Regions from separate parts of the Homo sapiens genome. Here region 2 is linked to region 1. The links come from fine-mapping of genetic effects on gene expression. Tissue or cell type: whole blood. Region 1 holds a variant in brackets; the other region holds the start of a gene. All regions are shown on one strand. Distances are between the middles of the regions. Region 1 has its middle 27 kb from the start of CLXN. Region 2 holds the start of CLXN (calaxin).

The links. PIP is the estimated chance that this variant, and not a neighbour inherited with it, causes the effect. A credible set is the group of variants that fine-mapping cannot tell apart.
Region 2: CLXN starts here. The variant in region 1 is the best candidate, but not a certain one, in a credible set for the expression of CLXN in whole blood (TOPMed, PIP 0.61).

The regions. Positions count from the first base shown.
Region 1 is chr8:48,759,081-48,764,465 of GRCh38, forward strand. No RefSeq gene overlaps it. Among named protein-coding and RNA genes, the nearest start is that of CLXN, 27 kb to the left of the region's middle. The variant G/T (reference allele first, on the strand shown) is at 3,283.
Region 2 is chr8:48,732,896-48,738,280 of GRCh38, forward strand. CLXN (calaxin) reads right to left here and starts at 2,373. Exons shown (of 6, transcript NM_024593.4): 1 at 2,199-2,373. The coding sequence starts at 2,256. RefSeq lists an enhancer at 1,778-2,452.

The sequences.
Region 1 (5,385 bases):
TTGACCTTCCTTGGTAGCAAGGAATTATCTTTTTTAAAACAAACAAAAATTTTATTTGTGTTTATAGCTGCAATGCATCGTTACACTCCATCTTATCACATACCTTAGCTTGGCTACAATTTACATTTGTAATATATCTGAAGACTTACTTGCTTTAAATTCATAATACAAGCAGGGTTTGAAGCTGACATAGAGCATATTAAAGATAACATTTTTGTGTTCTTCCGTATATGCCTTATATTCAAATCAATGTCATTAAGTACAGTGTAGAATTAATTACTCCTTAGCTTCTTGTGAACTAACAGTTCAAATTACTAGATGTGCAATTACTTGAAAGAACTGACACAAAATTTGGTTAAAATGTATTATAATCCAAAATCATGCTGCTATAAAGACACATGCACACGTTTGTTTATTGCGGCACTATTCACAATAGCAAAGACTTGGAACCAACCCAAATGTCCAACAACGATAGACTGGATTAAGAAAATGTGGCACATATACACCATGGAATACTATGCAGCCATGAAAAAGGATGAGATCATGTCCTTTGTAGGGACATGGATGAAACTGGAAACCATCATTCTCAGCAAACTATCGCAAGGACAAAAAACCAAACACTGCATGTTCTCACTCATAGGTGGGAATTGAACAATGAGAGCACATGGACACAGGAAGGGGAACATCACACTCCGGGGACTGTTGTGGGGTGGGGTGGGGAGGGATAGCATTAGGAGATATACCTATTGCTAAATGATGAGTTAATGGGTGCAGCACACCAACATGGCACATGTATACATATGTAACAAACCTGCACATTGTGCACATGTACCCTAAAACTTAAAGTATAATAATAATAAAATTTAAAAAAAGTATTATAATCCAAAATATTTATTATTTAGACCCTATCACTGACTACTCTGTTTTCTTGTTATTTTTATGCATATACTCACTTTGAAATGCTTACCGGGCCCTATTTTAATTTTGATGGGGTTATGTCTCATAAACTCATCATTAGTTGAAAATATTGTAAGTCAAAATGCATTCTCCACCCCAATAAGCCTGTTGTAAGGTCAAAAAATCAAATCATCATGAGTTGGAGATGATCTGTATCTTGTTCTTCATCTGTCTTTTTAAAAATTTTATTTTTAATTGACAAATAGTAATTGTATACATTTATTATTGGTCTTTCTGAACGCACACTGATTACTTTCAGTTAGCAGTGGCTCAGCTCAGTGTGTTCTGAAACTGAGAGGCTCAGGGGACCTATGTCTTCTTGGATCCTGGCATTTGCTCAGACTTAGTGGTTCTCTCTGCCTGGGAATGACTTGGTACCTTCTTTTTTCTGGAGGAGATTATATGAAACTGCTGTTGATTCTTAAGTGTTTGGTAGCATTCTCCATGGAAACTGTGTCTACGATTACCTTTTTAGGATACTTTTGGTTACAAATAGAATTGTTTTACTAGTTATAAGGCTATTCAAATTAGATATTTCATATGGTTGAGTTGTAGTAGTTTGTGCCAAGGAATTTGTCCATTTCATATAAGTTGTCAAATTTTTCTGTGCAGAGTTGTTCATTTTACTCCTGTATTATCATTTTATTCTCTGCAGGGTCTACAGTTATATTCTCTATTTCATTCCTGATACTTGATAATTTGTGTCCTTTCTTTTTTTCTCTGTAAATCTTACTAAATGTTTGTCGATTTTGTTGATATTTTCAAAAGAAAAGCTTTTTTTGCTTTATTGATTTTCTCTATTTTTGTTCTGTTTTTAATTTCATTGATTTCTGTTCCTTTACATTATTTTTCTTCCCTCTGCTTTCTCTGTGCTTAGGTTTCTAGGGTCTTGAGATGGGAGCTTATTGATTTGAAATTTTCCCTCTTTTCTAATATAAGCATTTAGTGCTATAAATTTCCTTCTCAGCACTGTTTTAGCTATGTCTCACATTTTTTCTTTTTTTCTTCTTTTAAAAAATTTGTATAAATATAAGAGGTACAAGTGCAGTCTTGTTACACGAATATATTTTGTAGTGGTGAAGTCTGGGCTTTTAGTGTAACCAGCACCTGAATAGTGTACATTGTACCCAGGAGGTAATTTCTCACCTGTCACCCCTTGCACCCACCCATCCTTCTGAGTCTTCAATGACCCATGATACACACTCTATGTCTATGACGTGTTGTTGTTTCATTTGCATTTAGTTTGATGTATTTTTTACTTTTTCTGAGATTTCCTCTTTGACCCACGGATTATTTAAAGGTGTAGTCATTAGTTTCAAGAGTTTGGAGATAATTTTCCGTTATTGATTTCTACTTTGGTTCCATTGTAAGTGACATGCTGTATGATGTCAATTCTTTTAAATTTGTTTTGTTTTGTTTTCTGATGGAAGATATGCTCTCCCTTGGTGTGGTGACTAGATTTTGTTGGTAGATGGTATTGAGTTCTTCCATATTCATGGTGGTTTTCTGTCTAGTTGTTCTATCAAATATTGAGGCAGGGTATGTGTTGAAATCTCCCACTGCAATTGTGGGTTTGCCATTTCTTTTTTCAGTTCTATCAGATTTTGCTTCATGTAACATGCATCTCTGTTGTTTGATACACACATTGAGAACTTTTATGCCTCCTGGTAGCTTGACACTTCTGTCATTATGTCATGTACTTCTCTGTAACTGGTCATTTTCTTTGCTCTGAAGTCAACTTTATCTGATATTAATATAGCTATTCCTCATTTATTTTAATTAATGATTGTGTGCCATATCCTTTCCATCCTATTATTTCTATTTACTTATACCATCGTATTTGAAGTGAGTTTCTTGTAGGCAGTACATACTTGGGTTATGTTTTTGCAATCCACTCTGCCAATATATTTTAATTAATTAATTAACTATTTCAGACAGGGTCTTCCTCTGTAGCCCTGGCTGGAGTACAGTGACTATAGCTCATTACAGTTTGAAACTCCTGGGCTCAAGCAATCCTCCTGCCTCAACCTTGTCAGTAGCTGGAACAGTGGGTGCATATCATCACATCTGGCTAATTTTAACAATTTTTTATAGATATGGGGTCTTGCTATATTGCCCAGGCTGGTTCAAACTCATGGCCTCATGTGATCTTTCTGCCTCAGCCTCTCAAAGTGCTGGGATTACAGGTGTGACTGCTGTGCCCTGCCTGTCTTTTTTAAATCATATATTTAGACTACTTAAACTAAATTTAATGTAATTATTGAATTGTTAAACTTAAGCCTGCTATTTTATTTTTCTTTCTGGTTTTTCATTTTTTTTTGGGGG[G/T]GTGTGTGTCTTTTTTCCTGGCTTCCCATGGGTTAATTGAAACTGATATACCAACAAACAGGCTTTGAGTTCCTCTTTTGCTCAAGGCGTGAATGTATGTGTCATTGAGGCATAAGAAGCTGTATTAGTTTATAAGGGCTGCCATAAGAAAGCGCCGCACACTGAGGGGCTCAAACAACAGAAGTGCATTTCCTCAGAGTTCTGGAGGCCGGAAGTTGAAGGGTAAGGTGTCAGCAGGATTGGTTTCTCCCGAGGCCTCTCACTGTGGCTTGCAGACGGCCGTCTTATCCTGTGTCTTCACATGGTCTTCCCTCTGTGTATACTTATCTCCTCATCACTTCTTATAAAAACACCAGCTGGCCAGGTGCAGTGGCTCATGCCTGTAATCCCGGCACTTTGGGAGGCCGAGGTGAGTGCATCACCTGAAGTCAGGAGTTCGAGACCACTGTGGCCAACATGGTGAAACCCTGTCTCTAATAAAAATACAAAAAAAATTAGCCAGGTGTGGTGGTGCGTGCCTGTAATCCCAGCTACTCGGGAGGCTGAGGCATGAGAATCGCTTGAACCTGGGAGGTGGAGGTTGCAGTGAGCAGAGATCGCACCATTGCACTCCAGCCTGAGCAATGGGGTGAGACTCTGTCTCAAAAAAACAAAAAACAAAAACCAAACCCACCAGTTATATTGAATTAGGACCCACCTTAATGATGTTATTTTACCTAAACTATCTCCTTTAAGGCTCTGTCAAATACAGTCACAGCATGAGGATCTGGGGGTTAGGGCTTCAACATGTGCGTTTTTAGGGGACACAATTCGGGTTCGGCTCATAACTTAGGATTCTGAGACAGCCCATTTCAATGGAGGACACAGCACCACACCTACCTGTCTGCTGCCCCTGGATTCAGAGGTCAGCCAGGCCCAGGTTGCCCATGGAGGCCGGCTGCCTGAGGTAGACGTTATGCTGGGTGTTCAAGGGGGGTTAGGCCAGCTTTCAGGAAAAGATGGCTCCTAAGTGAGAGAAGCCCTCTCACTCTTGTTCTGCTCAACCTCCTGCTTGAAGCAAATAGGGTATTTTTCTCTCACAATAAAGGAGACAGAGGGCCTGGGGCATGTGTTCCTGTGCACTGGGATAGCTGCTGGCTTCTTAGAGCCCACGGCTATCCAACAGTTCCTGTACTCATAAGGATATTTCATAATTTTTGAAACGATTGATGGTTTTTTTTCTGCTTTCTAAAAGAAAACTGATTCTTAAATTTTATTGAAATAGAAAACAAATGATGTATTGCAATAGATCCTTTTGCTAAGAATTCACATATTCTGAGGATAGGTTCTTGTTTTTTTGTTTGTTTAATTTTAATATAACATCTGCACTTAGATTTAGCAACTGGATTTTCTTTGACCTCAAAAATCCATGTAAACCAAAGCTCCAAGTATGAACTGCCTCCCCACCCCTTTTTTTTTGCCTCCTACCTCCAACACATACACATTTTCTGTTGCATTCAAAAAGCCTAGTGAAGTCTCTGAGCAGCAGTTGGTAGGGAAAAAATAGCAGCATAAAAGCCTCCTTCCAGACATGTTTAGCAAATTCTTTCTTATTTTAATCTTTCATTATGATTTATTGACGTATTCAAAGTTTGTCCCAGCGACCCATCCCAGCAGCCCCAGGCTGTAGAGATAAACATCCTTGCTGACTCTTAGCTGCGTTTGGCCATTTATTCATGGCTAGTTTTTACTGCACCCCTAAGGAAATAAGAGCACTGTGTATTCTAGGGAAAAAAAACACTCTTTTCAAATATCCCTTCTTTCCGCAGCTCTGTGTGTGTGCCCTGCAAGCAGTCCTTGGTGGCAGTGAACAGAGTGGCTTTCTGTGGAGCCGCCACTCCTGTCTCAGGCTGCCGACTCAGTGTCTGTGAGGGGAATTCCTGTTCCTGGCCCAAACCCACAGGCCTTGCTCGTGAAGGCCTCTCACACACTCTCTTTTTCTTGCTTGGATAAGAATCTGTGCTCTGGAGACTCTTCCATGGAACCCAGAAAGAAAAAAAAAAAAAAACAGAGAGAGAGAAAAGCTTTCACTCACATCCATGGCTGGAAAATTCAACTTGCTCT
Region 2 (5,385 bases), 26 kb before region 1:
TCAGATTTATAGAGACAAAGTAGAATGATAGTTGCCAGGGACTAGGATGAGGAGGGAATGGTGAGTTAACATTTAATGGGTAGAGTTTCCACTGGGAACAATGAACAAGTTACGGAGGTGGATGGTGGTGTTGCAAGCAGAACAGTGTGAATGTACTTAATGCCATGAAATTAAGCACTTAAAATGGTTAAAATAGTAAATTTCATGTTATATGTAACCACATACACACACACACACAAACCTCCTAAAAAGCAAGAGCTGTTAGTTGTTGCGGAAGAAAAGCCTGCATGAAGAATGATGTACTCTGTTCATGTACATAAAATGGTAGCAGAGGGGATGTTGGTTAGCCATTTTTCCATCTCAGCTGAAATAAAAATTTTTAAAAACTAGTTTAATTTATTACCCAAAGGATCAAAGGTTAGCCATAAGAAAACTTTTATTGCTAAACATTTCTTAAATTCTAGAATACAATACTAAATGAAACAAGAAAATTCAAGAATAGGTTTTCATCTTCTTGGAATGCTGTGAATGTGTCCTGCAGAACATATCTGTAGAACAGTGCATGAACTAGATGTTCTCTTAAGATCTTTCACTCTTCTTTGATTCTACAAAATTTATCCATTGAATCTTGATAGCTTTATTGTCTTGCAACTAAAACAAAATTTAACTTTAGGGGAAAGTTCTTCCGTTAAAGAAAATTTAAAATTATTATAATGTCCATGACGTATAACTATTTCTATAGACTTTAACTAATAATCATCTAAGTTTGTAAGACTCATTGAAAATTTTTTAGTAAACAAAAAAATCAAGAGCAGACTTTTTCCTGCCATATTTTTACTTACCTTTAAAAATATACACTCACCTTTTGATTGTTCACAGAATGATTGTCTGCAATGCATTCAAACTTACCGAACAGAGACTAAATCAAATTCAAACTTACGGAAAGGGACAAAATCAGTATTGTGTATAGCAGCTATTGCATTGTTTTTGAATATTTATCAAAAATGTTTACTAGATGTTTACTAGAAGAATACCTATTCTCCCAGAAATGAAAGTGTTTTAAGAAAAACAATAACAGAACAAAACCCTCATCAGAGTATAGTAGTCATAATAATATCTTAAATTACAGGATTTTTTTCCTAAACATTTTAAGATGCGTACACACACCATAATATTCATTTATATCACCATCCACTAAGAGAGCATTTCTTACCAGGTATTAAATCAGATACTAATGATAATTAGAATGCACTAGATCTTACAATCTCTAAAACTACATCAACATGTTTATTCCTTCTTTTTTGAGCGACTCGGTTATTTGGGGGATTGTTGCTTCTGTTTCTTCAAGTGGCCAGTAGTTTTGCAATTAGCACACACAACTTCTAAGTTTGCTCGACAGGAAATTATCTTCCTCATCTAAACCATACCCACGGCTTCCTTGCTAAAGTGCAATTATGTTTTTCAGTCTGAATATAAACTCAAAGTTTCCTATGAAATTCTAGGACCACCCTTTCAAATGCGAGATTAGAGCAGGTGCCTTCAAATAGGGCTCATCTTGTCACCTGCAAAGTCTCCTTTATCTTTCAACACCAGGGGCCACTGGAAAGTGGGAGTCTAAAGTTGGGAACCCATTCTTTACCACGTGTTTAGTTGTGCTGAACTCTGGTTTCCAAACAAATATTGTTCTGAGGCACAGATGAGATGACACAACTCATCTCTCCGAAAGATGTTGAGAAGTTGAGCACCGTTTTCTCCTATGGGTCTCTTGGTAAGCTTCCAGAACTTGGACCTGCGGGTGTATGTGCGAGCTATAAAGCAGGGTGAGTGCACGGTCTACCTTGGTGGTGCTACTTTTCTTGAGACCAGTTGGTTTTAGCATTTATTTTACACCTCATTGAGGCTAACATCACATGTTTCTATCAGGTAAAAGAAGAGGGTTGGAGAAGCAAGTAAATGCATGTGTGGGAGTGTAGGTAGCACCAGAGGCGGAGGCCTGGGTTCCTAAGATCAAACGCAAGGAGCTGGCACCCCGGGATTCCCTCTCTGACTTCTGCTTAAGGGGCCGGGGTGGAGGGGCGGTAGGTAGCCCACAGAGTCCCAGCAGGCGGGAAGCAGGCACAACAGCGGACCTTAGCACGGGGTGGGACCCAGGCTCGGTCCAGGAGCCTCGGCCTGTCCAGCACTACATTCTTACTTACAATGCTTGCAATTTTTGGTTAAGGTGTCCGTCAGCTTCTGCAGTTTCTTGCGGTTCATGTCTGGCGCTCAGAGAATCGGGCCGCGGCGGGGGTCTCTGGGCGCGCGGCTACCGAGACCCTCGCGGGACCCCCGCGAGCCCTGGTGCTGGGTCAACGCGGTGAGGTCTCAGTTACTGATCTCGTGCGCGGCCCTAACAGACGGTGTAGCCAAGGCAACGGCTCAGCCCGCCGCGGATTGGCTCCCAGGCTGCCCGCGACGTAGCCAAAGCTACAGCTGGGCCCCGCCCATCGGCTCAGCGACTGCTCGCGCTGGGTTCTCGGTGCGCGGTGCCGCCGGCAGGGTCCCAGCTGGCCGCCTTGAGGGCTGTATTCTGACTGTTGACGTTGGAGTTTAAATGTTCAGTTGTTGCTGGCTTTTGAGTTCGCAGCCTCTTTGCTTGATTGCAGTGTAAATCATTAAAATCTGAAATGTGGTGTGCACGCTGTATGAGAGGTGTTTCGGGTCGTGAGCGTCACGCCTCAAGGGAAGGCCCAAGATCTTGGACATCTTGGGGGCTGGAGCAGCGTCACAAAATAGCAAGGTGCTGTCCAGAGGACGATCTTGCCGGGCCTCCCGTCAGAGGGCTAGAAGCTTGCTCTTTGGGCGGAGCCACTGCTTAGGTTTTCAGTCTTGGTGAGGTAACAGGAGGCAGTCTGTCACCTGAGGTCTTCGAGCTTTTAGTTGTGTTTCTGAGAGCAAGGGGAAATTGGAATACAGCCACGGGTTGCCTAAGGAGCGGGACGCGTTCCGAGGTCACTAGGAGATTTCATCACTGTGTGCACATCACGGTGCACCGACACAAACCTAGATGGCCTTGCCTACTGCACGCCAGGCTGTATGGTACAACCCATTGCTTCTGGGCTGCACCCCTGCACAGCAGGTCACAGCGCGGAATGCTGCAGGCAGCTAAAACAGAGTGCTAAGCACTCTGGGGAAGGTGCAGTGTTCCAGTACAGTGTTACATCTTATGGGACCACTGTCCTAATGTTGTCTGATGTTGACTTAAATGGCGCTATGTGGCTTGTGACTGTAGTTTTTTTCTTTTCCCACTGCCCTCATCTCACTTCCAAAAGATGGAGGTTGTCTGTGGAATCTGAGGAAAGCCACGAGGAATTTTTATACTGCTTAAATAGGCATTCCCCCCAATGAAAACGGGCTGACAACACCACTTGGGTGTGGGGTACAGCCCAATCTTGCTTTTCCGGAAAATATCTCAGCAACCTTGGTCCTTTACTTATTTGAAAGACAAGTTCTGTGCCGGCAGACAAAGGATATTCCTTACATCTTCAGGGTGGGAGGACTTTCTGCTTTTCCTGATCACAGAGGGGATATCCTCTTTCAGCTAAGGCAGCAATAAAAAGGGGTGGCTCAGCCAGGATCACCAAATCTACAGTATTCTCCAGAGTGCCTGCTCGTTTAACTTCAGAGGGGAAAATGACAAACTATGTTATTGTACACATACTGGCATTTTTAGACTGAAGGCAGAAAAATTCTACTAACCATGAGTAATAATCCCAAATGAAATAATTCCAATGTCGAGGCCTCTGGTTTTTCTTTACTGTTTCATTTGTTTGTGGAATGAAGGATTGGGATGCTGTTTGAAACTAGAGCAAAGGGTGCTTGGTAAAGGCATGGACTGTGTTATCCTAAAGCAAATGTCCTAACAACAGTTACCCGATATGAATTGATGGTGATTATGAGTTTGTAACAGTAGTATTTTTAAATAGTGTTTCTACATATCCCCTTGTCTAGAAGAGTGAAATTCCTGAGACCATAGAGAACAAAAGGGAAAGACTGGACATATTTGAATTATACTTACCTGTGACACCTTATTGATTTCTGTTGGATCACAGAGCTGTAGCAAATACTTAATTCCTAGAGATTGCTGCACTGCTCACTTCAAGAGACAAGGAACCGAAAGAGTGGTTGTCAGTAATTACTAAGAGACGCTGTGGGCTCCCCACCTGATGTACTAGGCCTGTGTTGGGGAGCAGGCCTGCGCTGTTGGTGAGCACATTGGTGGTTATTTCTGGTGGCCTGGGGAGATCGCATACACCGGGTGCTTGCTATAGGTAAGCTAATTAGTTATTCCTTCACGAGTTTAAGGCCTAGAGCCCATCAGCCATGTTCCCTTAAAGTTAAAAAAATAATAAAAAGATGTAGGGGCAATATCACAGATTGTTGAAATTAAAATATGCCGGGCCAAAACTCCTTAACCTGTTGAGCAAACTTTGTAAGTCACCTCCTCCTCTTCCACTTCTTTTATCCTCCAGTTCTTTCTTCCATGCAGTTCTTTTAGCCAAAAAAATCAACCAATCTATCTATCTATCTATCTATCTATCTATCTATCTATCTATCATCTATCTATCTATCTTTCTATCTATCTATGCAAATGCATTGTTTTGTGAATCTCACTTATCTAAGAGAGTGATTTGCAGAGTTGACCTTACAATAAGGTCTTATCATCTTTTTCAGGGAAAGCACAATGTTTATTTGGAGTATGTTTTGTCAACATACGGGTAAACTTCAGAGCTTTCATTACATTCTTGTGAAGTTTTGGAACTTAATATTTTTAGACTTTAGAAACAAGTTGCAGGCCTGATTGAGTCAGTGAATAACATTTCAAAGCAAGTTGAAGTTTCTATTTGTAGTTTTAGTTGCTTATGCTGAGTAGACACAGGACTGCTTTCCCCCAAGAGCTTTCTCAGAGTAAGGCAATTAAGCCTAAGAGGCTACTTCATATTAAATCAATCAATAATGGAATAATAAAGGATTGTGTTTAATTCGTATTGGACATAAATTTTACTGTGCATGAAATGATCATAGAACTTTCCAAAAATCCAAGCAACCTCAAGATGAATAACTTTGTAAACACAGAAGTACATTAAAGTGACTATTAATGCTATGTTTCCTTTAGTTTTGTGTGCAAAACAATCTTCCCTTTGACTCAGCATTCACTGGATTGTTGCCATGATAAACAGCTTGGACCTTGACTTGATGAAATTGTTTTCCTTAATGTGGACCTTTTATGATGAAGGCCTTTGGAAACTGTTGAGGAAATGACATCATAGAATTGATCTCCAAGTATATCACAAATCTATTATAAAATTGCTTGAATAAAAGGGAAATAGGTTAGTTACCTGCATA